Homo sapiens: one gene and its partners. The protein of the gene in region 6 interacts with the protein of the main gene of each other region in a biochemical or structural test. Each region holds a gene or a part of one and is shown on either strand. Other genes may lie near its edges.

Region 1 (3,500 bases), about 28 Mb from region 6:
CTTAAGTGTATTTGGCTCCTTTCTGTCCTTTAGGAAACAATACTTGTTTTTATGGGAAGTGCTATTACTGCCGAGAAACAGAACCAGCTTGTGCTGATGGAGACATAATGGAGGGATCTGTCACACTTTGGCTTCCAGATGTGTGGCCTCTGCAGAAGCACCGTCACCCATGGGGCAGGACTTACCGAGAAGGCAAATTGGCCAGGTAAATGCTCCTATGAGCCATTACTTAATTCTCCCCTGTGCCTAGCCAGGTGCCAACTCTGTAAAGGAGCCAGCAGTTCTGTCCAAGAGTGAAAAGAACTGTGGAGTCAGGGGCAAACCGGTAGGTAGGAACTCTGTCTTCTCTTTGTGTGTAACAGTGCCAGGTACAGTGTTGTCACTCAGTGCTGTGATGCTGCTTGTCTCCAGGTGGGAGTATGATGAGAGCTACTGTGATGCTGTGAAGAAAACGTCCCCTTATGACTCTGGCCCGCGCCTCTTGGACATCATTGACACAGCTGTCTTTGATTACCTGATTGGCAATGCTGACCGCCATCACTATGAGAGCTTTCAAGATGATGAAGGCGCTAGTATGCTCATCCTTCTTGATAATGCCAAAAGGTGAGACCAGCAGGACTGTCCTTGTCAGGGAGGGGTTTCTGTATATGAAAGAAGGGCATTTTCCAGAGCATCCTGGAGAATATCCAGAATGCAATTGATAGGCAACATCCTTCTTTTTTCCACTTGGAGTCTTTGCTATTGGTACCTGTCCTTCTCTCCACTCTCAGGGATCTCAGTACTTCAAAAAATGGAAAAGTGGTTCTTCCAAGGAGTCTAAGACTCTATGAGCCTCTTCTCAGACAACTGGAAAACCAGGGTTATTCATTTGTTACTACCTACATCGTTCTTTCTTGGCTATGATATTTGGTGTTTAGAAGCTTGAGAAATACAGATGTAATAGAGTGTGGAATTTGTCGTTAAATTTATTCTATCCAAAGGTTCCTGCAATTAAAAAATTAATTTATTTGGTAGGATGTTTTGCTATTTTTGTGTTTGTCTAGGTCCATACTTTTGCTGTCATGGGAAGAAGAGCTGTTGCCTAGTGTGGATTTTATATATAACAACAAGTTACTTTTATCTTGAATAAAAAATGTTTATTCATTTTGAATAAATAGAATGTCCTTATTTTTTTAGGCCTGAGCTATTTGGAGAGCACATTGTATTTCCATTTCATATTCTGCATTCTCTGTGGTGGCCGGTTTAGTGCCACACTTTTTTTTTTTAAGTTTTTTTGAGACGGAGTTTTGCTCTGTTGCCCAGGCTGGAGTGCAGTGGCACAATCTCAGCTCACTGCAACTTCTGTCTCCTGGGTTCAAGCGATTCTCCACCCTCAGCCTCCTGAGTAGCTGGGACTACAGGCACTCGCTAATTTTGTATTTTTAGTAGAGACAGGGTTTCGCCATTTTGGCCAGGCTGGTCTTGAACTCCTGACCTCAAGTGCTCTGCTTGCCTCGACCTCTCAAAGTGCTGGGATTACAGGTGTAGTGCCACACTTTTAGTTGCATTTAATAAATATTTACTAAATAGAACGCTTCCTTGGAGTACAGAATTTTCCAGGCCCTAGGTCACTACTGTTAACATTGGTTGTTGGAAATAAGCTAAGACATGGCTCCTCAGCAAAGAGTGCTTGGGCAGCATTTGCTAATGATGCCACCATCTTATACTGAACACCAGGCGCCTCATGCTTTGTGAAAGATGGTGATGGCCACAGAAAATGAAAAACCAGCAAACACTGCCTCTCCCTCTACCCCATTACAGCAAAGCACATAGCACTCATCCTGTGATACACATGATACTTGATATTTGGTGTATATCAAAATAGTTGCTTTGTCCACTCGGGCCGCTATAACAAAATCCCTTAGACTGGGTAATTCATAAGCATCAGAAATGTATTGCTTACAGTTTTGGAGGCTGGGAACTCTAAGATGAAGGTGCCAGCAGATTCAGTGTCTGGTGAGGGCCTGTTTCTCAGATGGTGCCTTCTATGTGTCCTCATATGGCAGAAGAGGTAAACACGCTCCCTCTGGCCTCATTTATAAGGGCACTAATCCCGTTCATGTGGGCTCTTCCCTCGTAACTTAATCATCTCCCAAAGGCCCTACTTCTTAATACTGTTGGACTGTTGTACCAGGGATTACGAATTTGAGGGGGACACAAACATTCAGACCATAGCAGTTGCCTTTGCCTTGAATTACTGGAGGACCTACACTGTACTAAGGGCTACCAGACTCTAGCTATTAAGGTGAGCCTCTGGAAAGATTGAAAGGTTGACAGTTTTCCAGAATCAGTTCTCCTTTTCTAACTCTGAATTGCTGCTAAGGTAATTTTTGCATCTGCTGTGAATCAGTTTCCTCAGCCTGTGTGAACAGTTTTTCCAATTTGAATCTGTACTTATACTTACTTGTAGGGAATAGGATATTGCTAATTTGGGAGTAGAATAAGTGTGACTTCTTTTTACAAGTAATGGTCATCTGCTTGTTTGTGGGAATCTAATATAAATGGCTTTTATTTCTCTCTGGTCCTTAAAACCTTTGCAGGCTTAGGGGTCTTCAAGTTCTCCCTTTGGTCTGTGAACTCCGCACTGTGTTTACCATAGTTATGCTCCAGCACCTTGTGATATCTTGGCAGGAAAATGTCCCTTGTAAATGAGTATATTTGTTGTCAGATATTTTAGTACAGGCTGTTAGGGATCCTGTGTCTAATTGGTCATGCCCCGCTTGTTTTCAATTTAAGTGATTTGAGCTGCTGGAGCGTGAAATTATCTAGGATCACATTTGAGTTTCATATAGAATTTGCTATTGCTTTGATGCTAAGAAGAGAACAGTACTTCCACCTAATTCACTAAGTTTTAATTTAATTTTCAGCTTTGGGAACCCCTCGCTGGATGAAAGAAGCATTCTTGCCCCTCTCTATCAGTGTTGCATGTAAGTTATGCACAGCAAATACATGTGCCTGCATTGCCTTCTTTTCCAGGCTCAGGTAACAGTACATCCATTTTCTTGGCCCTCAAACTTTCTGATACCTGAGCAGTGCTTTTCATACTTTTCCAACCTAGAACCTCTGGACATCCTGAAATGGGATATCAGGGAAAGGTGAAGGCAGATAACCCAAAGCTCAGAATTCATCTCAAATTTTGTATGAATAGAAGATTGTATGTATACAGTAATACATGTTTGGTTTAATAGCAGAATATAATCACCCACACTCCCCACCCCACTGCCAAAAAAAAAAAAAGGAGTAAAATCTGTATGCCTGGTTACTACACCTGGTTACCTTGTGGTTTTAACTCCTCTCACTCACCCATCACATACCACCTGGGGTTTACATATTTCAGTTTGAAATTGTCTAAACCAAAAGTAACTTTTTCCATAAATAATAATTTATTTTGGCCAGGCACAGTGGCTCACTCCTGTAATCCCAGCAATTTGGGAGGCCAAGGTGGGTGGATCACCTGAGGT
Region 2 (3,500 bases), on a different chromosome or scaffold from region 6:
CAGCAGAACAGCAAAATGTGACCCAGGTGGCACATTCTCCACAAGGTTACAACACAGCAAGGGAGAAGCCAACCCGAGAGGTGCAGGAGGTAAGGGGCGTGAACTGGTAATCTATGGTTAGGTCACTTTCTCTGTCAAGTTGCCAAGAGGGGACCTGCTTTTAATATTGCCAACTTTTCTGGGAGAGCAGTAGTTCTCAAATTTTAGTATATCAGAATTGCCAGTAGGGCGTGATAAAACACAGATTACTGGGTCCCAGGCCCAGAGTTTCTGATTTAGTTAATTTGGAGTGAGGCCTAAAGATTTGCATTTCTAACTGATTTAGCTGGTCTGAGTAGCAAACTTTGAGAACTGCTGCTAGTATTTTCTTTCTTTTTTTCTCTGAGACAGTGTCATGCTACGTCGTCCAGGCTGGAGTGCAGTGGCACAATCTTAGCTCACTGCAACCTCCGCTTCCCGGGTTCAAGCAATTCTCCCTGCCTCAGCCTCCCGAGTAGCTGGGATTATAGGCGCCCGCCACCACGCCTGGCTAATTTTTGTATTTTCAGTAGAGACAGGGTTTCGCTATGTTGGCCAGGCTGGTCTTGAACTCCTGACCTCAGGTGATCCGCCCGCCTTGGCTTCCCAAAGTGCTGGGATTATAGGCGTGAGCCACCACACCTGGCCGCTGCTAGTATGTCTGAGAAAGGCTTTAATGGCTTTGTCTTTATTCATGTAGGTTTATTTGTCTTCAAGGAGTTGTAGTATCTGAGTTTTTCAAGGTTGGGGATTTTGCGGGGGTTAGGGTGAGAACGTTAAATGATCATGAGGATTTTATGTGACAGTCAACCCACTCAAATATTAAAGTTAATAATATATTTTAACTTGGAGCAGTGCTAGGTCTACACAGAGCATGTCAAAATTTGAATTAAATGACCTGTTTGACACTCCTACGGGTATGAGTGCTAGTCAAATAATACACCTTTTTATATTCTTGTTCTTTATAAAAATTAAGCCTTAAGAATATCTCATAAGTGAGACATCAGAAGTAGTTACCATTACCACTAATTTCTACAAAGGTTGTTTTTTTTTTTTCCAATCATCTGTAATAAAAAAATAGGCAATATGGTTATCTTTCTGACAAAGTGGTTGTTTTAAACTTTTAAGTTCAGGGGTACATGAGCAAGTTTGTTACGTAGGTAAACTGTGTCATGGGAGTTTGTTGTAAAGATTATCTTATCACCCAGCTATTTAGCCTAGTACCCATTAGCTATATTCCTGCTCCTCTCCCTCCACCTTCTGATAGGCCGTACAGTGTGTTGTTCCCCTCTATGTGCTTATGTGTCTCATCATTTAGCTCCCACTTATAAGTGAGAACATGTAGTATTTGACTTTCTGTTCCTGTGTTGGTTTGCTACAGATGATGGCCCCCAGCTCCATCCATGCCCCTGCAAAGGACATGATCTTGTTCTTTTTTTATGACTGCATAGTATTCCATGGTGTTTATGTATCACATTTTTCTTTATCAAAGTCTATAATTGGTGGGCATTTAGGTTGATTCCATGTCTTTGCTATTGTGAATAGTGTTGCAGTGAATGTGTCTTTATAATGGAATGATTTCTATTCCTCTGGGCATATACCCAGTAATGGGATTTTGCTGAGTCAAATGGTATTTATATCTTTAGGTCTTGGAGCAGTCTCCACACTGTCTTTCATGATGGTTGAACTAATCTGCACTCCCACCAACAGTGTATAACCATTCCTTTTTCTTCACAACCTCGCCAGAATCTGTTATTTTTGACTTTTTAATAATAGCTCTTCTGACTGGTGTGAGATAATATCTCATTGTGGTTTTGATTTGCATTTCTCTAATGATCAGTGATGCTGAGTTGTTTTTTTTTTTTTTTTGTATGATTGTTGGCCACATATATGTTTGTGTTAGTCCGTTTTCATGCTGCTCATAAAGACATACCCTAGACTGGTTGATTTAAAAAAGAAAGAAGTTTAATTGGACTTACAATTCCACATGGCTGGGGAAGCCTCACAATCATGGTGGAAGGCCAGGAGGAGCAAGTCCCATCTTCCATGGATGGCAGCAGGCAGAGAGAGAGAGCTTGTGCAGGGTAACTCCTCTTTTTAAAACGATCAGATCTTGTGAAACTTGTTCACTATTGTGAGAGCAGCACGGGAAAGACTTGACCCCATGATTGAGTTACCTCTAACCGGGTTCTTCCCACAACACGTGGGAATTCAAGATGAGATTTTGGTGGGGACACAGCCAAACCATATCAGTGTCTTCTTTTGATGTGTGTGTTCATGTCCTTTGCTCACAAAGTGGTTTTTAACATTAAAGAGAAGACTGAGAAAACTTTCCTCCAAGTTATGGGAATAATTAAGTTGATATGAGTAGACTTCATATATGAGCCTCTTCACTCTGTTCAGGGTATTCCTTCAACAGACAGGTTCAGTATCTTCATGGACTCTTATTCTTTCTCAGGCTCTTATGTTAATAACTAAAGAGAGCATGACCAGATCACTGGCCTGGCAGTTGGTTCTATTTTCTGCCCTTGTCAGACTGCCAGTTTACTGGATTAATCTTCCAGTGACTCAGATCTTCAGTTTTTCCATCTCTGAGGTGGAGATAGGAGTTATCTGCACTAACCTTCCTCACTAGGATATTGTGAAGATAAATGACAAGTGTTTGAAAGTACTTAGAGCTCTTTAGAGAAATATTTTTCTGTAAAGCCAGGGCAGTATTATGTCAAACTTGCCAGATATGTGAGGATGTCGGTGGAATGTGCAACTCCAGTTGTCCTCAAATGTCTGAGAAAGGACTTTTCTCCCCAGTTTATTAATACAGTCCAATTTCTCAGATTTGATAATTATATCTCTGCTAATTTAAGAATAGGATTTCACATTTATTTCAATTTTGGGAGAGCAGTCTAACCAAAGAAGATTTTTTTTTCTGAAGGTTAAAGAGAAAAAAAGAGTGACGTTTGTTTCTGTTGATATACTATATTCTCTTTCTTCCTCACTTTCTAGGTAGTGCAGATCATATAGAGATCGCTGAAACTTATAGGGAGAACTGATTTGAGTCAACTAATTTTAGAGGAGGGTTATTCTGAAAAAGCCATTTCTTCTTTTTCTGCTCAGGGTTTTCAATATTAGCAATAAAAAATGTTTACAAAAGAGTCCTGCTGGTTTACAAATAATTACTACTTTAATACATTAAAAATATTTTATTGTATCTTGTTTAACAGGCACTGTGTTGAACTAACATGGATGTTCATTAGTAATGGCATTCTTTTTTTTTTTTTTTTTTTTTTTTTTTTTTTTTTTGAGACGGAGTCTTGCTCTGTCGCCCAGGCTGGAGTGCAGTGGCGCAATCTCGGCTCACTGCAAGCTCCGCCTCCCGGGTTCACGCCATTCTCCTGCCTCAGCCTCCCGCGTAGCTGGGACTACAGGCGCCCGCCACCACGCCCGGCTAATTTTTTGTGTTTTTTTAGTAGAGACGGGGTTTC
Region 3 (3,500 bases), on a different chromosome or scaffold from region 6:
TAGTAAGAGTTGACATTATAATCTAAATTCGTCTCAAACTGTAGTTTACTGATTAAAAGCAGCAGCATCACCTGGGAGCCTGTTAGAAATGCATAATCTTAGGCCCAGACCTACTGACTCAGAATCAGCATTTTAATAAGTTCTCCTGGTGCTTCATAGGCATGCTAAATGCTGCCTTAAATAGTCTCTGCTTGGCACTTCATAAAAGAAAGCAGCCAGTTTTTAATAGATTACTGACAGAAATTTCTCACTGCTCTGAACGAGTTTCTGAAGAGCAGGAAAGACATGCTGCTGAAGTGGCAGTTCATTTTTGAAGTTCACAATAATCCACTATTAAGAATTTCTACAAGTACCCTGAGGTGGTAAAAGGTCAAAGCACAGGAGTTGAGATTACTTTCTGATAGTCACATACCTCATTCCAAAATGTAAATCCACCAATCAAAAACAGAAGAGAACAATGGTAGACATGGGAATTCCAAGATGGTCTAGAGCAGTGCTCTTTAAACTACAGGTTTGCAAAGAAATAAGGAGCTTATACCAGAACAGAAAGCAACACATTACTTTGAAAAAGGCCTACTATCAGAACCAACCAATCAAAATGTCCACTTAACTAAGCAGTGAGCTTAAAACTGAAACTTAAAACTGTCCATTTAAGTAAGCAGTGAGCGTAAAACTGATTTACATCCTAGTGTAACCTCATTATCTTGTGCAGACAAACAGCTGACAAAGTGTCAGGCCAGGACCGCATTTTGAGTAGCACCGGTACAGAGGAAGAGCTCAATGATGAGATTCTAGATGAGTACTTCCCAAGCTATCTGTGGTGAAAGGCCAATTTTTATTTCTAAAAGAGGTCTACACTGTGTAAATAGGATAAAAATGAATTATAAGAAAAATAAAACTAAAATATAAAACAAGTCCTAAATTTTTATTTTTAGCTTCAGACAAAATTACTCCAATTACAATAAAAGTTTCTGCTTACTCCCAAATAAGCAGACATTCTTTAGTTATAGGACCAGAATGAGTCTATGAACTGACTTTCAGTAGCAATGTTCTGGGCAGTATCCTGACGAAGCATATGCTTAAAATTAAGGTCAAACAGCAAGTTACAGAAGCTTAGTCCTATGAGAAATTAACAATGGAGGCATATAATATACTAGTTAACCAACTGAGAGGGAATAATGGGAAAAGCTGGGTGGAACATAAAAATATTCTCATGTCCCAGCTGGGCACAGTGGCTCAGGCCTGTAATCCCAGCACTTTGGGAGGCTGAGGCGGGTAGATCACGAGGTCAGGAGTTCGAGACCAGCCTGGCCAACATGGTGAAACCCTGTCTCTACTAAAAAAGATACAAAAAATTAGCCAAGCGTAGTGGTGGGCGCCTGTAATCCCAGCTACTCGGGAGGCTAAGGCAGGAGAATTGCTTGAACCCGGGAGGCGGAGGTTGCAGTGAGCCGAGATCCCACCACTGCAGTCCAGCCTGGGTGACAGAGCGAGACTCCATCTCAAAAAAAATAAAAAATAAAAATTCTCATGTCCCTCTGAGTATCAAGATTCACAATCCAAAAGGACAACAGCAGACAAAATCACCCTACTTTCAGTCAGAAAGCATAGACATCTCATATCCTTGAGGAGCCCAATCTCTTGGCTATACAAATATACCAAACCTTGAATGGATAGAACAGTGAATGCAGGAATCCCCAATCTGTTTCATTCAGGTAAGACAGGTTTGTCCACCGCTGAACTTGATAAATAATTTTTCATTCACTAATTGCTTTGTACTGGGCATGGGCTGGCATAGGAGATGAAAAAAATGAGTAAGACACATTTCCTGCTGCAGAGGAATTCAGTCCATTCAGGGAGCCTGAGCCTGACACACAAACCAATAATTGCTAAATACTAAGAGATGTTATTATAGAGGTATGAACAAAGGATTCAATGTGCTGAAGGAAAATAGTGGCTAATAAATCCTACAGAGCAGTAGATAGGGACCTAGGTAGAACAAAGAGGAAGATTAAAAAATAAAGACATAATACAGAAAATAGGTTATAAGTTCACCAAAAGGAATGGTGAAGTTTGGTTGAGTGCAGGTACATGGGTATAGCTGAAGGCCTGAATCGGAAATGCACTGAGGACTGAGAGGAAAAGAGATGAAAAATGGTAAAGTAGCAGCACTGTTAGAATGTACTGACAAATCGAATTGGCTAGCATGTGAAGGCAAGCACCTACCATGATTTCTTAATTTCTGGCACAGACAGATGGTAATGAGCCATATAAAAGAAAGAATAGAGGAGGAAGAGCAACTTCTAGGAGTAGGAAGGAAAAGGAGACTCAATTTACACATGCTGAGTCTGAAGGGAGTAGACAAACTTTTAGCATACCCCACATTTTGTAGGCCACTGAGCTGGACAAGTATGTATCTAATACACATGCCTGCAGTGAGGCCTCGTACGGCTTACTATTAGTAGGGAACTCTGCCTCCAATTGATCACCTAAAGACATGTGGCTATGCTACAGAGCAAATACACAGTGACCAAACTGTTCTGTAGGAACACAGAGCACTTGCTCAGAGCTGAATTACTGTTACATAAACAATCACAAAACACGACATACTTTGTAATAGTATGTTTATGTTTGCTAGTTGATAAAATGGAACCAGGCTTTGAAATCTCACCATTCAACCTCTGCTTGAGAGGTGGTGAAGAAATAATTTACTACTGAGAAGAGAAGAGAAAAAACTGAATAGTGGACCCTCTGCATCCCAGAATTCCAATTGTTTTCAAGCTACTTATATTATTTTCTGTCAAACCGTATTTTGCATTGTGTTAATGTCACCTCACAATGTCTGGAACTGGGCTAAAGACAGTAAGAAATAGAAGGAAATTAAAATTATGCGGGTTAATGATGTCACACAGACAAACAGCTAAAGGACAGAAACTTGGAGAGAACCAACACTTAAGGGACACATAAATAACTCAACTGAGAAAATCTGGTTAGAGGTAGGAGGCTAGGAGAAAATGAAGTCTTTAGAACGCATCCTTGGTTTTTAACTTCCTTGTTCTTTGTGCCTCTTGAGGAAAAAAAAGATTAGTTCTATTAACTAATTATAAAAATATAAATCGAAACTTACATACACCTCAAGTTTCTCTAGGAAAACAAGACTTAAGCAAAAGCTATGACCAAAACAAGTAACAAAAACCAAAGACACACATATAACAAAACTGAACCTAGAAAAACATTTTCAGAAACAAATCAAATCTGAATAGTTATGCCCTTCCCCAAATCATGGGTTCTGAACTATTTCTACTTAAAAACGAATTCAAAATTAATATCTTATTCCCTAAATAAATCTGAGTTTTAGCAATTCCCTTCTCTTGAGGCAAACCAAGAATTATTTTTAATATCTGGAATATATAGCCCATTTTAATTAACAGATACAGACAGGAATATGACAAAATTTAGACTAAAATACTGCTTATGTTTACTGCTTAATAAAGTAAACC
Region 4 (3,500 bases), on a different chromosome or scaffold from region 6:
CATTTAGCTTTCTAGAAGGTGGGGATCCACCGCCAGCTCAGACAAACGGAGCTCAGAGGAGCTGGCAGCTCCTCTGCCAGCGTCCTTGGCACCTCCCCAGCTCCTCTCTGGAGGAAGACACTGGCCACCGTGCCTCCCCAAAGCCTGTCCCTGCCCTGTGGAAGCAGCACCTCCTTTCTGGTGAACAAAAAGGCTGGCATCAGGCTCCACTCCAGGGGGGTTGGCACAGCTCACACATGCCCTCCCCCTGCTGGGGTTCAGGGAGAGGAGGGCTGGGCAGCAGTTTACCCTTCAGTAACATGAAACCAAAGTCTGGGTTTTGAGTGAGAACCATCTGTCCCCATGGCTTTCAGGGCAAGGCTCCTGGTAGGCACATCCTAGCGTGGTCTTGAGAACCTTTGAAGGTGTAAAAAGGGCGTGTTCCCAGAGGCTCCGAGAGCAGCAGCGGATACAGCCGAAAACATCTTGGAGAGATTCCCCACGTCTCCCACAGGCCTCTAGCGATAAGCTCTTCCTCCTAGAAACTGCTCAGTGTGAAGTGACAGTAGGCTATGCTCCTGGCTAAGGGTAAGGGGGCCGCAGGTCAGAGCAAGAGGGAGACGTGCTCCCTCACCACATCCCTGGCTTCTAGGTGTGTGAATTCTTTACCATGTGCCTGTGTTTGCCAGCCAGGCCCTGAGCTCCCACTCCCCACCCACACCTCCATAAAACCTCAGGGTCCAGTTACCTTTCTCCACGGTGCCGTCGCCGTCGGACAGAATCACCCAGGGCACGGCTTTGCTGCCTTCGATCTGGTAGACGACCCCCGTCCGGTCATCCACGGAGTAGAGTTTCCCATTGAAAACAATCAGGTCGGATAGCTCCATGCCTCTCCCCTTCTCCGCCAGGTGGGACTCCAGGACCCCATGGTCTTTGTCCCATTCCACGGCCACCTTGTCCCCACTGTCTGACAGGGTCAGGTAGCCCTTTTTCAGGTAACTGAACCAGGTGTTTTCCTCTTGGGCCCTTGACTCTGTGTCCAGGTCTGCGATAACTGCGATTCGATACCGAATCCCAGCCGGTGTCCTTTGTGGGGGAGACAGGGGGTAGGTGTCATTGTACCAGTTGGCGGGCGCCTGGCCGAGCCTCCAGTTGTGTGCATTGTGGGTGGGGGGCCTGCCGGGGGCCGGGCGGTGGGAGCAGAGCAGCCAGAGGATGGCAGCACCCACAAAGAACGTCAGGATCACCTTCCAGCGGGGGCGGAAGCGGGGGTCCGCGGCCTTGGTCATGGACGCCAGCACAGGAAGGCCCCCCACACTGATCCGGAGGGAGTGCATAGACTCATTCCATTCCGGGTGCTCAGACAGCTGCACGGGCATCAGCGTGACAGACAGGCGGGACCTGCACAGCCAGGGAGGGAGGAGAGGAGTCAGCGCCTCCGCAAGCCCAGTCACATCTTAGTTCCGGAAGCTGCAGGCGCTGGAGGCTGACTTTTCCAGAAGAAACAGTATTTCACTACTCTGTGGCCATTCTTACTCCCTTGGCTTAATGAATTCCCGACTCTAGATTCCCGACTCTAGCAGTATCTTTGCTTACTTTCATTCGGCAAGACGTGAAGTCTTTCCACAGCAAAATTACTCCATCTCCCCTGTCCCAGCTGGCAACGTGGGAAGCTGAGTGAGGAAGGAAGTTCCATGCAGGCTGGTGCTCTGTGGTCCCTCTAAAGAGAGAAGCGCAGGAGAGTCAGGTGGGAGGGGAAGGCTGACGGGGTGAAGTGGGATAGGATCATAGACAGGGTACAGGTCTGTATTTTACTCAAATGCCACCTCATCCAGGAAGCCCTCCCTGACTGCCCTGCTGCAGACATCACCCTCCGTCCCTGGGTCCTTGGCCCTTGTCCCCACCTGACGTTAGAGTATTGTATACAGTTATCGGTTTGTTTGTTTCTGTCTCCACCTCTGTATCCTGGCTCCTAGAACAGTGCCTGGCCTGGAGCAGACAGATGTGCAGTAAAGGAGTCTCCACTTCCTCTGGGTTAGGCTCCTGCAGCATTGGAATACCAAACACATCCAAACCAAATAAAAACACTCCTTCTTTTTCGTATCTGTTGTTGTTTTTGGCAGTGTCTGTCCCCTGGCGCCTTTCTATTAATGCAAATGACTGCAGGGACCAGAGTCTGCGCTGCCCTGACTGCCTGGAGGCCAGCGTGTCTGTGCCTTGGCGCCAAAGAACTGCTCGGCTCACTGCGGGGCCTGGCTCGGCCGCAGGCCTCTCCCAGCTCACCCTCCACCCCAGGCGTGGCTCTGTGGCAGAGCCCCAGGGTCAGGGTGCTGGTGGCGGCCAGGAACTGCAGCCCTTCACTGCTGTCGCCAAGCCCACTTCCCGGGCATACAGCATGATGGCTCAGTGCAGCCATGGGGCACCAGGCCCACGTCTGCGCCGCCTTGGTGAGAGCTGCCTGTCTCTGGACAGCCGCCAAGTGCCACAGTGGGGCGTGGGGAGACAGCTCCCGGTGCTTCGATCGAGAACACTGGCCCTGGGCAGAGGTTCCATATCTCTGCCCTCCAACTATAGCTCAGTGAATCCCGGCCTGAGAAGCTTCCCTGGCTGGGTCCTCCTTGAGAAAACAACAAAGCAGCAAACATGTGCCTTTATGGGCAGACGCTGTCCTCCCTGCCAGGGCGCCTGGGAAGGGCTTGGGGACTCCAGTGGCTCCGTGCAATTCTGGGCCCCAAATATGTGGACCACGAGGCCCTGGTGCACGGCAGCCAGCAACAGACACCCCCACCAGAGACACCCCCTTCTCCACGCCGCAGCCTGCTGGGCTGAGAAGATACAAAAACAGGGTGACAATTCCACATGGAACTTTCGGACAGTCCTAGGTTTTAGCCCCAGGGTGAGGTTCAAGGAGTGAACAAGGCACATACGTGGAACCTGCTGCTCAGAGTGATCCTCCTAACAGCACAGGGGGGCTGCCAGCAGTTCCTCCAGGCCCGCAGGGAAGACTCCATGCTCCCTTTAAGGGGCAGGCCTCTCAGGACCCCCTGAGGTGGTCACAGGGCTGATCACCGGGGCCTTCCCGGCAGCAGGGCTGGGGTTCCCCGTGCTGGACATCCTCCTCTGACTGCATCCAGGCCCTGCCCCTTTTCTAGTCCCAAGGCCTCAAAACCCCAGCCAGGCCCAAGAAGTCTCCACTGAGCTCGAATTACTCTATCTTACCTGCTATGCCAATCCCGCCTACATTTCTTTTTTTGTTTTTCTGAGATAGGGCCTCGCTCTGTTGCCCAGGCAACAGTGATCACGCTCACTGCAGCCTCAACCTCTGAGGCTCAAGCGATCCTCCCACCTCAGCCTCCCAAGTAGCTGGGACTACAGGCGTGTGCCACCACGCACAGCGAATTTTTTTTTTTTTTTTTTTTTTTTTTTGGAGACAGAGTTTTCCTCTTATTGCCTAGGCTGGAGTGCAATGGCACGATCTCGGCTCACTGCAACCTCCGCCTCCTGGGTTCAAGTGATTCTCC
Region 5 (3,500 bases), on a different chromosome or scaffold from region 6:
CCACTCTGGCTCTGTTTTCAGTGCCTCTCACTTACTAGTGCTGGGCACCTAGTTTTGGGGTCACTGGAAGGTGGTAGGATCAGAGTGGTAGCTTCTGGGCAGAGGATGCATTGAAGATAGAAGTTGAGTGCAGGTGATGGGATGTGCTGGAAAATTTTCCACCCTCACCCCTAAATATCCCCCAGCAGCTAGCCTCCTCAAGCCTCCTCTGATGAACAACCCTCCCTCCCATCCCCTTCTCACACCCAGCACCGATGCCTCGTTCTCTCCGGATGTCCCTTATTCAGACCTTGTGTGTGTTATGCCTTCTCCTCCGACTGGAAGCTTCCTGAGGGCAGGGATGGTATCTCCTCCCTCCCAGTCCTCAGGAAAGGACTCTTTAGGGTAGAGAAAAGGAGCCGGTGAGGAGAGGAGATGCTCCGGAGATGGGTGGGCTGCATACCTGGTTGCCGCCAAGGCCGTGGCAGGAGTACATGATGAGGGGCTTCCCCCCGCGGTTGTTCTCACCCACATCCAGGCATTGGTTGGTGCCGAGGTTCTTGATCTGCAGAAGGGTGAGCAGAGAGGGGAAGCAGGATGGCACAGTCAGGAGGTTCCTCATGTGTGGTATGGGGCCCCACTGGAACAAATTCCAGTCAACTGCAACAAATTTGCATGGCTGGATTTCCCCCGTCATTTCTCTCCTCTGTGCGTTAACCCACATGCCTGGAGCTAACAGCAAAGTGAGCTGCAGAGCCCCAGAGGCTGGAAAGGGCAGGACTGAACCCCTCTGTGGGGCAGGCAGGGAACCTCCCAGGATGCCAGGTCCCTGGAAGAAGCCCTCAGCACGTGGGAGTTTCCTTATAAGCAGTGGTTCTCAAATGTGAGCCCTGGACCATCAGCATCACCTGGAGACTCGTGAGAAATGCAAGTTTTCAGACCTCCCCTGAGTCCTTCTGAATCAGGAACTCTGGGGATGGGCCCTAGCGTTTTACCGTGCCTTCCTGGTGATTCTGATGCATGCTAATGTTTCAGGACCACTGCTTGTGGGTTGTTTTGCCCTTTATAAGGTTTTTTGCTATCTCTAGAAGCCCCAACGTGGCCTCTCAGTCCTCCTCCTGGATAAAGGAGGGTGCAGGGCAAAACTCAATTCTTGTTTGTCATCCATCTGTGGGGTCAGTGGTCTTGAACTTCTCCAAGGGGTGCTGTGGTGATGGGCAGGCAGGTTGGTTCTCAAGACTTACGGCACCATAGAAGGTGGGCGTCAGGTCAGGAACAAACATCTCTGGGTAGACATTGTGCAGGTACCAGGAAAAGTTGTGACAGTGCAGTTGTTCCCTCAGCTGCAGTCGTTCCGAAATGTCACCGAAGGATTTCTGTCAATCAAGCCAGCCCCCTAAGGATCAGTTCCACCAGTTTTTTTTTTTTTTTTTAAGAGGGAGTCTCACTCTGTTGCCCAGGCTGGAGTGCAGTGGTGCAATCTCGGCTCACTGCAACCTTCCCCTCCTGGGTTCAAGCGATTCACCTGCCTCAGCCTCCTGAGTAGCTGGGACTACAGTCGCGCACCACCACGCCCAATTAATTTTTGTATTTTTAGTAGAGATGAGGTTTCACCATGTTGGCCAGGCTGGTCTCAAACCCCTCACCTTAGGTGATCTGCCCGCCTCGGCCTCCCTAAGTGCTGGGATTACAGGCGTGAGCCACCACACCCAGCCAGTTCCACCAGTCTTTGACCTTCCTGTCTGGGCTGAAGTAGTGCAGATAGCATGGAGCGCCTGGGGCTACTGTCTCTCATGTTCATTCCCACTCAGGACCTGTTAAAGATACTGGCCCAGCCCTCACATCCAATCCCAAAAACCCCGCCTTAGCTTTGGAGTCCCCTGCTTATCGGTCCATCTCCTGTGACTCCCCAGACAATTATGTCCCACTCCCCAGTGCCGAGGCTCTCAGAGCCATTCCTCCAAAGCCTCCAAAGCCTCCGTAAGAGGCTTTTCCTCCAAATCTCCTTTCCCTCCCTTCCCCTCCAAAGGGATGCAGAGACTCTATGCGTAGGGACAACATTCTCTAGCTTTTGAAACCTATGTGCCTTGTGGCCTTCTCCTGGGCTCTAGCTCACAGGTCCCTGAGGGTGAAGGGAGGCGCCAGATGGTAGAGATGAGGTGGGTCCCAGCCATTAGGCCCATGAACAGGGTCTGGGGGCCGTACTTCTCTTCATCTAAACCTCTCCGAGAACCATTTCCTCTCACCTCTTGGGCCATCTTTGCTGCCTGCAGATTTCTCCTATAGAAAATCTTCTTGTAGCTGTCCATCCAGACCTCTGCCAGGCGCACTTGATTGCGAGCAATGACACTAGTGCCCTTGGGGAAGGTGTGGGGGCTCTTGGTCCGGAACACATGGCCTACGACAGAGCAGGGGATGATCTCCAGCTGGCCCCCACACTGCCACACCTGATGTAAGAGGAGACAGGATGAGGCCTTCAGTGGGCTAGGTGAGACAGTCTCCCCATAAGCAGCTCTATTCTATTCCCAGAGCACCAGACCCCAGGTCCAAGGACTTGGGCAAATGCTGCTCTCTCTCCCTGGGAAAAAGGATACCGACCAGGCTTCTTCCTAGGCCATGACTACACGATCCCAGGCTTTCTGATGTTGGTTCACTCTGACTTAAGCACAGGGAGACTGCAGGGTCCTGTGTTTACCAGGGCCCACTTTAGGGAAAAGCCTGCTGGTTAATTTTTGTTACCTGTGCCTGTATACCTACTCTGAGCTCTGATCACTTGGCTTTTTGACCTGGAAATGTGAGTTTATCAGCTCCCTCAGGTGATAAAAACCAGAGCATCAGTCTGTTAATTAATAGCAAGGATAGTTGGCTGCTAGGTGGCTAGTGGTAGTCACTTGGGCCCTTAGCACACTGGCTGCCTAGGAAGGTGAACAGAGGTCAGAGGCTCATGGAGGAGCCTAGGATTGGGCCGCTGGGAGTTGGGGTGACTGGCAGGTGACCCTTTTCTATGCTGGTGGGCTGGCTGAAGACATCCCTCCCACTGGTTTCTTCTTTTGGGTTTTAGGTGGGAAAGTATGTTGTTATTCATTTTAGTGTGGCAGCAACAGAAATACATAATCGTTATAGTAACAGCAGGCATCAATTACGTGCTTAATATGCATCAGGCACCGTGAGAGGTGACTTCATAAATGAGCTCATCTACTTACTAATTACTTTTCCATGGCATGGAGATTTGTGTAGGTTTCATGGAGAGGCAATCCTTGCTTCCTGACCTAATCCTGATTTGCCTAATTCCTGGAATCTCTCAGAGTTCTGGGGTCCACCAGAGTTGGGGCCACCATCTTCTCTGACTGTTATGAAGGGCTTATTGTACATAGGTAGGGAAACTTCAAAGGTTACCAGGGCATGTGTCCTTTGAACTGGGAAGGGGAGCCTGATTTTTCCAGAAAAAGGATGATGACTGGTTACTCATCTGTTTTTTTTTTCTAGCCCTAGTTGTGAACATACTAACCTGTTTCTATCTT
Region 6 (3,500 bases):
AACATATACCAAACAGAATAAATAAATTCATGCACAGTCATGTTATAGTAAAACTGCAAAACACCAAAAGAGAAGATCTTAAAGGACCAAAGAAAAGATACACCACCTACAAAAAAACCACAATCAATAAGAAAGATAGATTTCTCACTGCTATATTAGAAGCTGGAAGAAGAGGGCATACTATCTTCAATGTGATAACCTGGAATGATCAACCTGGAATTTTATGTCCAGAGAAACTATCTTTCAAGGATGATGGTGAAATACAAAGACATTTCAGATAAGCAAAATAGAAACTGCCTCCAACAGACTTTCACTTAAGGAAATTCTACTTTAGGAAGAAGAAAAATGGTGCCAGAAAGGAAGTCTGAGATACAGGAAGGAACGGTGAGCAAAGAAATTCGTAAGCACCTGTGTAAATCTAAACAAGTGCTACCTGTATAAAATAATAATGATGATGATGATATCTAATTTATGAGGCTAAAAAAAAATACTGGACAACTAAAAGAGTGGTTAAAATATTAATATTTAAAATTTAGGTTTTATGTTAATTTTAAATTAATGTATCATGCATGTTAAAATTTCAAGGATAACTTCTAAAAGTACATAACTTCCAAGCCAATAAAGAGGAAAATTGAATTAAAAAATTTTTTAAATAGTTATTATAGCTAGGTGCAGTGTCTCATGCCTGTAGTCTGAGCTACTTGGGAGGCTGAGGCAGGACAATTGTTTGAGCCCTGGAGTTCAAGTCTACAGTGAGCTATGATGGCCCCACTGCATTTCAGCCTGGATAATGGAGCAAGACCCCGCCTGTCTCTTAAAAAAAAAAAGTAACCCCAAAATATGCACAACTATGATCTATCAGTAAAACACCACCAAAAAAACAACCACTTAAAAATTTCTCTATTTAGCTTCGTGACCTCTGTTATGCTGTATAACCTCTGTAAGCCTTAGTTTTCTCATCTTTAATGTGTGGGTAGTAGTAGTACTTCCTTTATAGGGTTGTTGTGAAGATATAATCAGATAATGCATGTAAAAAGCTTAGCACAAATCTAGTACATAATAAGTATTAGCACATATCTAGTATATAATAAGTATTCAATAGACATTAGTAATTAAACGTTACTGCTGTTAGACAATACCAGTGGCTCTCTTATACGTATATTCCCTATACAAAGGGAAGGGGAGCTAACATTTTAAGTGCCTGCTATATGCCAGGCACTATACTAAATGCTTTCTTATATATTGTATCTCATGTAACCCTCATAACAATCTTATGAAAATATATATTGGTGTCTGCATTTTATAGATGAGGACAATGTACTTCAGAAAGTTTAAGTAACATAACCAAGGCACTTAATGACAGTGGGTTTCTATTATACCTCCCATCAAAAGAACTTCAAATTGGCTGGGCACGGTGGCTCACTCCTGTATTCCCAGCACTTTGGGAGACTGAGGCTGGTGGATGACGAGGTCAGGAGTTTGAGACCAGCTTGACCAACATAGTGAAATCCCGTCTCTACTAAAAATACAAAAATTAGCTGGGTGTGGCAGTGCACACCTGTAATCCCAGCTACTCAGGAGGCTGAGGCAGGAGAATCGCTTGAACCTGGGAGGCGGAGGTTGCAGTGAGCCAAGATCACGTCACTGCACTCCAGCCTGGGCGACAGAGCAAGCCTCCATCTCAAAAAAAAGAAAAAAGAACTTCAAATTAATACATATCTAGGAGGATTAAAAGCTCAAATGCTTTTTACTTTTTTCTGACTTATTTTACCCCACTCTGAAATTTTGTGTCATGGAAACAGACTTCAAAAAAGCCAAAATTCTCCTCAAAAATTAAAATTTTGCATGTCAAACCAGGTGCAGTCACTCATGTCTGTAATCCCAACACTTTCGGAGGCCAAGGTGGGAGGATAGCTTGAGGCCAGGAGTTCGAGACCAGCGTAGGCAACATAGCAAGACCTTGTCTCTACAAAAAAATTTTTTTTAAAAACAGCCAGGCATGGTGGCACATACCTGTAGTCCCAGCTACTCAGGAGGCTGAGGTGGAAGGATTGCTTGAGCCCAGGAGGTCAAGGCTGCAGTGAGCCATGATCATGCCACTGCATTTCAGCCTGGGGGAAAAAGCGAGACCCTGTCTCAAAAAAAAAAATTGCACATCATTTATTGACTAACAGCAAACCATGGAAATTCACTAAAGATCTTGAAGTCAGACAGAAAATCATATTTGGGGGTGTTTAAGAGGATTAAAGAAACATCCTCTTACTCTATACTTTGAGTTCATGTAGTATGATGTGAAACGAATCACAACAAAGCGGCCTGTTCTTAGGGTGCCTGCTGGAAGTCAGTATTCCTCTCAAAACATTCTTTCTCTTCTCTTTTCTCCTTTCCTAGGGGTACACATCTTTCTGGAATGACTGCATATCATCAGGCCTGCGAGGGGGCATCCTGATAGAGCTGGCCATGCGGGGTCGAATCTATCTGGAACCCCCGACCATGCGTAAGAAGCGACTACTAGACAGAAAGGTACTGAATCCTCTGTGAACGTCCATGGCTTATGGAAAGGCAAATACCAACAGTACATTTGGGAAGAATAGAAAGATTTGAGTAGTAAGATAAAATAAATATCACTGACTCAGCAGTTCCATTGTCTAAACAGGTTAATTACCCTATTGCAAGAGGGAGAAATCAAAGTATCCATAGTCCAAAGAGTTATAGGAAGCTCCTGGTTTTGTCTTCCTTTTTTATGCAGAAAAATCATACTCAGGATGCTGTTGATTAAATTCCTCCTATATCTATAGCTATAACATTATGAAATAGCCGGGCACAGTGGCTCACGCTTGTAATCCCAGCACTTTGAGAGGCCGAGGCGGGCGGATCATGAGGTCAGGCGATTGAGACCATCCTGGCTAACACGGTGAAATCCCATCTCTACGAGAAATATTTAAAAAAAAAATTAGCGGGGCATTGTGGCGGGCGCCTGTAGTCACAGCTACTCGGGAGGCTGAAGCAGGAGAATGGCGTGAACCCGGAAGGTGGAGCTTGCAGTGAGCCAAGATCCCGCCACTGCACTCCAGCCTGGGGGACAGTGCAAGACTCCGTCTCTAAAAAAAAAAAATTACGAAATAGAGTATGATGTAGGGAGAGGGACTCATATGGGTCAGGTCAGTCATTGATTAACCCTGGTTATTCTCCAATAATATTCTGTTTCCTTCCATTTACTGCAAGTCCTTTCCAACCATACTCCTGTATCCATTTTCTTACTGAATTTTTCCACTCACAACTTCTTTATCATCCTAAGCACTCCACTTAAACTACATTCTTAGGTATCACCAGCTTCTTTTCAGTCTTTGATTTATTTTTCTCTTTTAACCTATATGTGTCATTTGACACTTTTTATCACTTTGAAACTTTCTTCATTATTGGCCTTTGTTATTATCTTATTCTCTTGCTTCTCTGACTATACACTGTTTCCTTACTTCTCCATTTCTTAACATCCAAGT
Region 7 (3,500 bases), on a different chromosome or scaffold from region 6:
GGACACAGGAGCTGGGATCAGATCCTTCATTCAAGATTAGATGACTGCTTTGCTGAAAATCCAACCACATGGAGTTATGTAGTCATTCAGGAGTATGTTCTTGTTTACTTTTTAAAACATTTTTTTAAAAGATTTAACCAATTGTTGCACAGTAGCCTGTGGTGTCCAATGGCACCTATAATTTATTTCACCTTACTGATCTGGTTTTAAGAAGAATGGCCAGCTGGATGTGGTGCCTGAAGCCTGTAATCCCAGCACTTTAGGAGGCTGAGGCAGGTGGATGGCTTGAGCCCAGGAGATTGAGACCAGCCTGGGCAACATGGCAAAACCTAGTCTCAACAAAAGATACAAAAATTAGCCAGGCATGGTAGCATGTTCCTGTAGTCCTAGCTACTCAGTAGGCTGAGGCAGGAGGATTGCCTGAGCCCCAGCAGGTCGAGGCCGCAGTGAGCTGTGATCGCACCACCGCACTCCAGCCTGGTTGACAGAGAAAAACCCTGTCTCAAACAAAAACAAACAAACACACAAACAAAAAAAGATAAAAGATAAATGGCCTTAGGGGAACAGATATAAAAACATAGGATTTTTCACTGCTAGTTTGGGGAAGGAGTTTTTTTACTCCCAGCCCAATCATAAGGGTGAGACAAGAGGGCTATGTCTATGTTACCACTCTGATTGTCTTTTTCCAGAATTCCAGTTGCCCATGATGTCACAGGCTGAGGCCCACACTCCAGAGACACTGTGGACTGACTGGCACCTATGAGCTGACCTAATAACAGTTACACCATTACAGCTCCGATTCTACAGAACAATACATATCCAGTTCTTATCTATGCTTTGCATGTGCTCTTTGAAACACAACCCTTCCCTAAACAGAATTCTCTACCTGTTACCATATCTAGAGTGTAGGGCTCAGGGAAGACAGTAAAGGACACAGACTCTGAGAAATGAACATGAACTAGGGCTTAGATGAATAAATGGAGCTACAACAATAGTTATATTTTAGTGCAACTTCTGAAAATTAAACTAAAGGATCCACGGGTGTGGAAGACACAATACCAGGGTGTGAGTCAGGGGATGAGTGCTCAAGAATGTTCTGTGTTTCCCAAATCCACTATATGAATGGCACGACCACTTTCCCAGGCAACTCAGTCTAAAACACTAGTTAGTTCTAACTTCTCACCTCCACGCAGTCACTTCCTAATCCCACCTCTACGGCCTCTTTTATTATGCCTCTCTTTTCCCCTCGCCTTCCCCTTGTCAAGCTTTCCTCCCTGCCACACTCTAGTTCCTCCTCAGCACCTCCAAGCCAGCTGATTGCAACAGGCTCCTAACAGAGCTTCTGACCTCCAGAATGAGCAACACAAGCCAAAAGATCTAGGTCCAATTCTCGTCCCAACACTCACTAATTTGATCAATTTGTATAAAAAAATCATTTATCTCTCTGAGCCTATTTTATTTCTCTGTGAAACAGGAAAATAAAAGATACTTCAACCAGGCGCGGTGGCTCACACCGGTAATCCCACCACTTTGGGACGCCGAGGCAGGCGGATCACGAGGTCAGGAGATCGAGACCATCCTGGCAAACATGGTGAAACGCCATCTCTACTAAAAATACAATAATTAGCTGGGTGTGGTGGCACGTGCCTGTAATCCCAGCTACTCAGGAGGCTGAGGCAGGAGAATCGCTTGAACCAGGTAGTCGGAGGTTGCAGTGAGCCAGATTATGCCACTGCACTCCAGCCTGGCAACACAGTGAGACTGTGACGATGAAGAGACAACAGCTATGATAGCCCTTTGTCAGGCATAGGACACTGTGCAAATGATGGTGATGTTTTACTTGATCAGCATCCATCTGATACTCTGAAGCATAAGTCAGAACATGGCACTCTTTTCTGTAAAACTATTCAATGATTCCCCCATGACTGTAGAATAAAGTCCAAATTATTTGCCAAGATTCTTCACAATCCAGTTCCAACTATCTTCCCAGCTGCATTTTTGCTCCTCACACTGTCTAACTCAACCATCAAGAATTAGCTCAAAAGGTACCTCTTCCAAAACCCAACCCTGACCTTTCCAACCAGAAAGAATCTCTTTTTTTCCCCTCAAGTACTGGGGCCCTTTCTATGAACTTTTCCTCCAGGGCATTCATTTGTCACTTTCTACTTCAGACTCATCTATTTATAGCTACCGCTTATTAAGGCCATACTACATATCCCAATGTTGTGCTAGACCCTTGCATCTATTTCTTCTGAACAAAATAGCAACTCTCAAAATAGCAATGGAATTAATCCCATTTAGTTGACAAAACTGATGCTACCAAGTTGCAAGAGGAAATTCAAGGACAAGGATAAATTTCAAAGCTCATGTTTTTCTATGATGCCTGTTGTCTTCCATGGCCTTGTTTATGGTCCTTGACTTACGATCTGATTGGACTCTTGAATCCTTTTTTAGTAGATTCAGTCTGATTTATCTTTGGTATCCCTCACAGACCCAGCACAGAACTATGCATAGAAGATGCTCAATGCTTGTTAAGCAAATAATTGGCTTCTTTTGACCTCTATGGGTCTCAGGTCCTCAGCTATAAAATTGGTAGTATCAAAGAGCTGGTCATATACTGTGTAGAGATCGACTTATTTGTAAATGTTTCCAGAACACTTATGTGCCAGGCACTGTTCTAAGCATCTCATCTATCGATCCTCATAAAAAGCCTCCAAGAAGTATGACTATTAAGCCCATTTTATACTTTAGAAAACTAAGTTTTTAAGCAGGGTGGCAAAACTTGAACCCAGGCAGACTGTGTCCAGAACCCACATTCTCAACCAATATGCACTACTGCCTACATAAATTTGGAGCCCAGGAAAATCAACTGAAAAACCATTAGAAATGGCAATAGACTCAAAACATGGTTGGTACCAGAATTAATATGTAAAAATAATATATAATATACATAGCAAGTATATATACACATGTACTATATATATGCATTACATATCCATATCTGTATCTATATTATCTATATTATAATGACTGCTTTCATGTACATGATCACCAATGAACTAAGGGAGTAAAAGATCCCAGTCAAAAGGGAAAAAAATAAGCAACTCAAATATCTAGAAATAAATTTCAGAAATATGCAGAATATACACACATACTACAAAATTCTACCAAAGGGTAATTAAAAAGTCATTAATAAACAGAAAAATAATGCTTAGGTGGAAAGACTTGGTAATAGAGCTCCCTTTCTCCATAATTAATCTCTATATTTAACATCTGAATTTAATTTACTTCGAGGGAGTGTCACAGTTCAACAACTAGGCACTTTAATATAAATTGGTGCAATCTTTGGAGGAAATGTTGGGGTGTTGGGGCAGTATCTATAAAAATTTTATAAGTGCATCCCCTTTGACATAACGATCCTACTTCTAGGAATCTACTCTGCAGAAATGCCAACACATGCTACCAAAGATGGATAAGAAATGTTGAGTGCTGTTTTGTAT

Evidence for each region.
Region 1: the proteins of GOLPH3L (region 6) and FAM20B form a complex in vitro, tested with the Homo sapiens proteins (one study listed by BioGRID).
Region 2: the proteins of GOLPH3L (region 6) and GOLIM4 form a complex in vitro, tested with the Homo sapiens proteins (one study listed by BioGRID).
Region 3: the proteins of GOLPH3L (region 6) and C1GALT1 form a complex in vitro, tested with the Homo sapiens proteins (one study listed by BioGRID).
Region 4: the proteins of GOLPH3L (region 6) and CANT1 form a complex in vitro, tested with the Homo sapiens proteins (one study listed by BioGRID).
Region 5: the proteins of GOLPH3L (region 6) and GALNT6 form a complex in vitro, tested with the Homo sapiens proteins (one study listed by BioGRID).
Region 7: the proteins of GOLPH3L (region 6) and PGAP4 form a complex in vitro, tested with the Homo sapiens proteins (one study listed by BioGRID).

The regions. Positions count from the first base shown.
Region 1 is NC_000001.11:179,063,894-179,067,393, forward strand, and holds part of FAM20B (glycosaminoglycan xylosylkinase), read left to right. Parts: intron 1-33; coding exon 34-205; intron 206-411; coding exon 412-603; intron 604-2,906; coding exon 2,907-2,966; intron 2,967-3,500. UniProt on the Homo sapiens protein: Responsible for the 2-O-phosphorylation of xylose in the glycosaminoglycan-protein linkage region of proteoglycans thereby regulating the amount of mature GAG chains.
Region 2 is NC_000003.12:168,033,425-168,036,924, reverse strand, and holds part of GOLIM4 (Golgi integral membrane protein 4), read left to right. Parts: coding exon 1-89; intron 90-3,500. UniProt on the Homo sapiens protein: Plays a role in endosome to Golgi protein trafficking; mediates protein transport along the late endosome-bypass pathway from the early endosome to the Golgi.
Region 3 is NC_000007.14:7,234,544-7,238,043, reverse strand, and holds part of C1GALT1 (glycoprotein-N-acetylgalactosamine 3-beta-galactosyltransferase 1), read right to left. Parts: intron 3,483-3,500; exon of another isoform or gene 1,665-3,482; intron 1,659-1,664; exon of another isoform or gene 413-1,658; intron 1-412. UniProt on the Homo sapiens protein: Glycosyltransferase that generates the core 1 O-glycan Gal-beta1-3GalNAc-alpha1-Ser/Thr (T antigen), which is a precursor for many extended O-glycans in glycoproteins.
Region 4 is NC_000017.11:78,996,265-78,999,764, forward strand, and holds part of CANT1 (soluble calcium-activated nucleotidase 1), read right to left. Parts: intron 2,023-3,500; exon of another isoform or gene 1,884-2,022; intron 1,700-1,883; 5' UTR 1,576-1,699; exon of another isoform or gene 1,381-1,575; 5' UTR 1,359-1,380; coding exon 728-1,358; intron 1-727.
Region 5 is NC_000012.12:51,356,907-51,360,406, forward strand, and holds part of GALNT6 (polypeptide N-acetylgalactosaminyltransferase 6), read right to left. Parts: intron 2,427-3,500; coding exon 2,226-2,426; intron 1,356-2,225; coding exon 1,224-1,355; intron 545-1,223; coding exon 443-544; intron 1-442. UniProt on the Homo sapiens protein: Catalyzes the initial reaction in O-linked oligosaccharide biosynthesis, the transfer of an N-acetyl-D-galactosamine residue to a serine or threonine residue on the protein receptor. May participate in synthesis of oncofetal fibronectin.
Region 6 is NC_000001.11:150,662,655-150,666,154, reverse strand, and holds part of GOLPH3L (Golgi phosphoprotein 3-like), read left to right. Parts: intron 1-2,391; coding exon 2,392-2,523; intron 2,524-3,500. UniProt on the Homo sapiens protein: Phosphatidylinositol-4-phosphate-binding protein that may antagonize the action of GOLPH3 which is required for the process of vesicle budding at the Golgi and anterograde transport to the plasma membrane.
Region 7 is NC_000009.12:101,480,674-101,484,173, forward strand, and holds part of PGAP4 (GPI-N-acetylgalactosamine transferase PGAP4), read right to left. Parts: intron 834-3,500; exon of another isoform or gene 690-833; intron 53-689; exon of another isoform or gene 1-52. UniProt on the Homo sapiens protein: Golgi-resident glycosylphosphatidylinositol (GPI)-N-acetylgalactosamine transferase that catalyzes the N-acetyl-beta-D-galactosamine transfer from an UDP-N-acetyl-alpha-D-galactosamine to the 4-OH-position of the first mannose of the glycosylphosphatidylinositol (GPI) of a GPI-anchored protein (GPI-AP).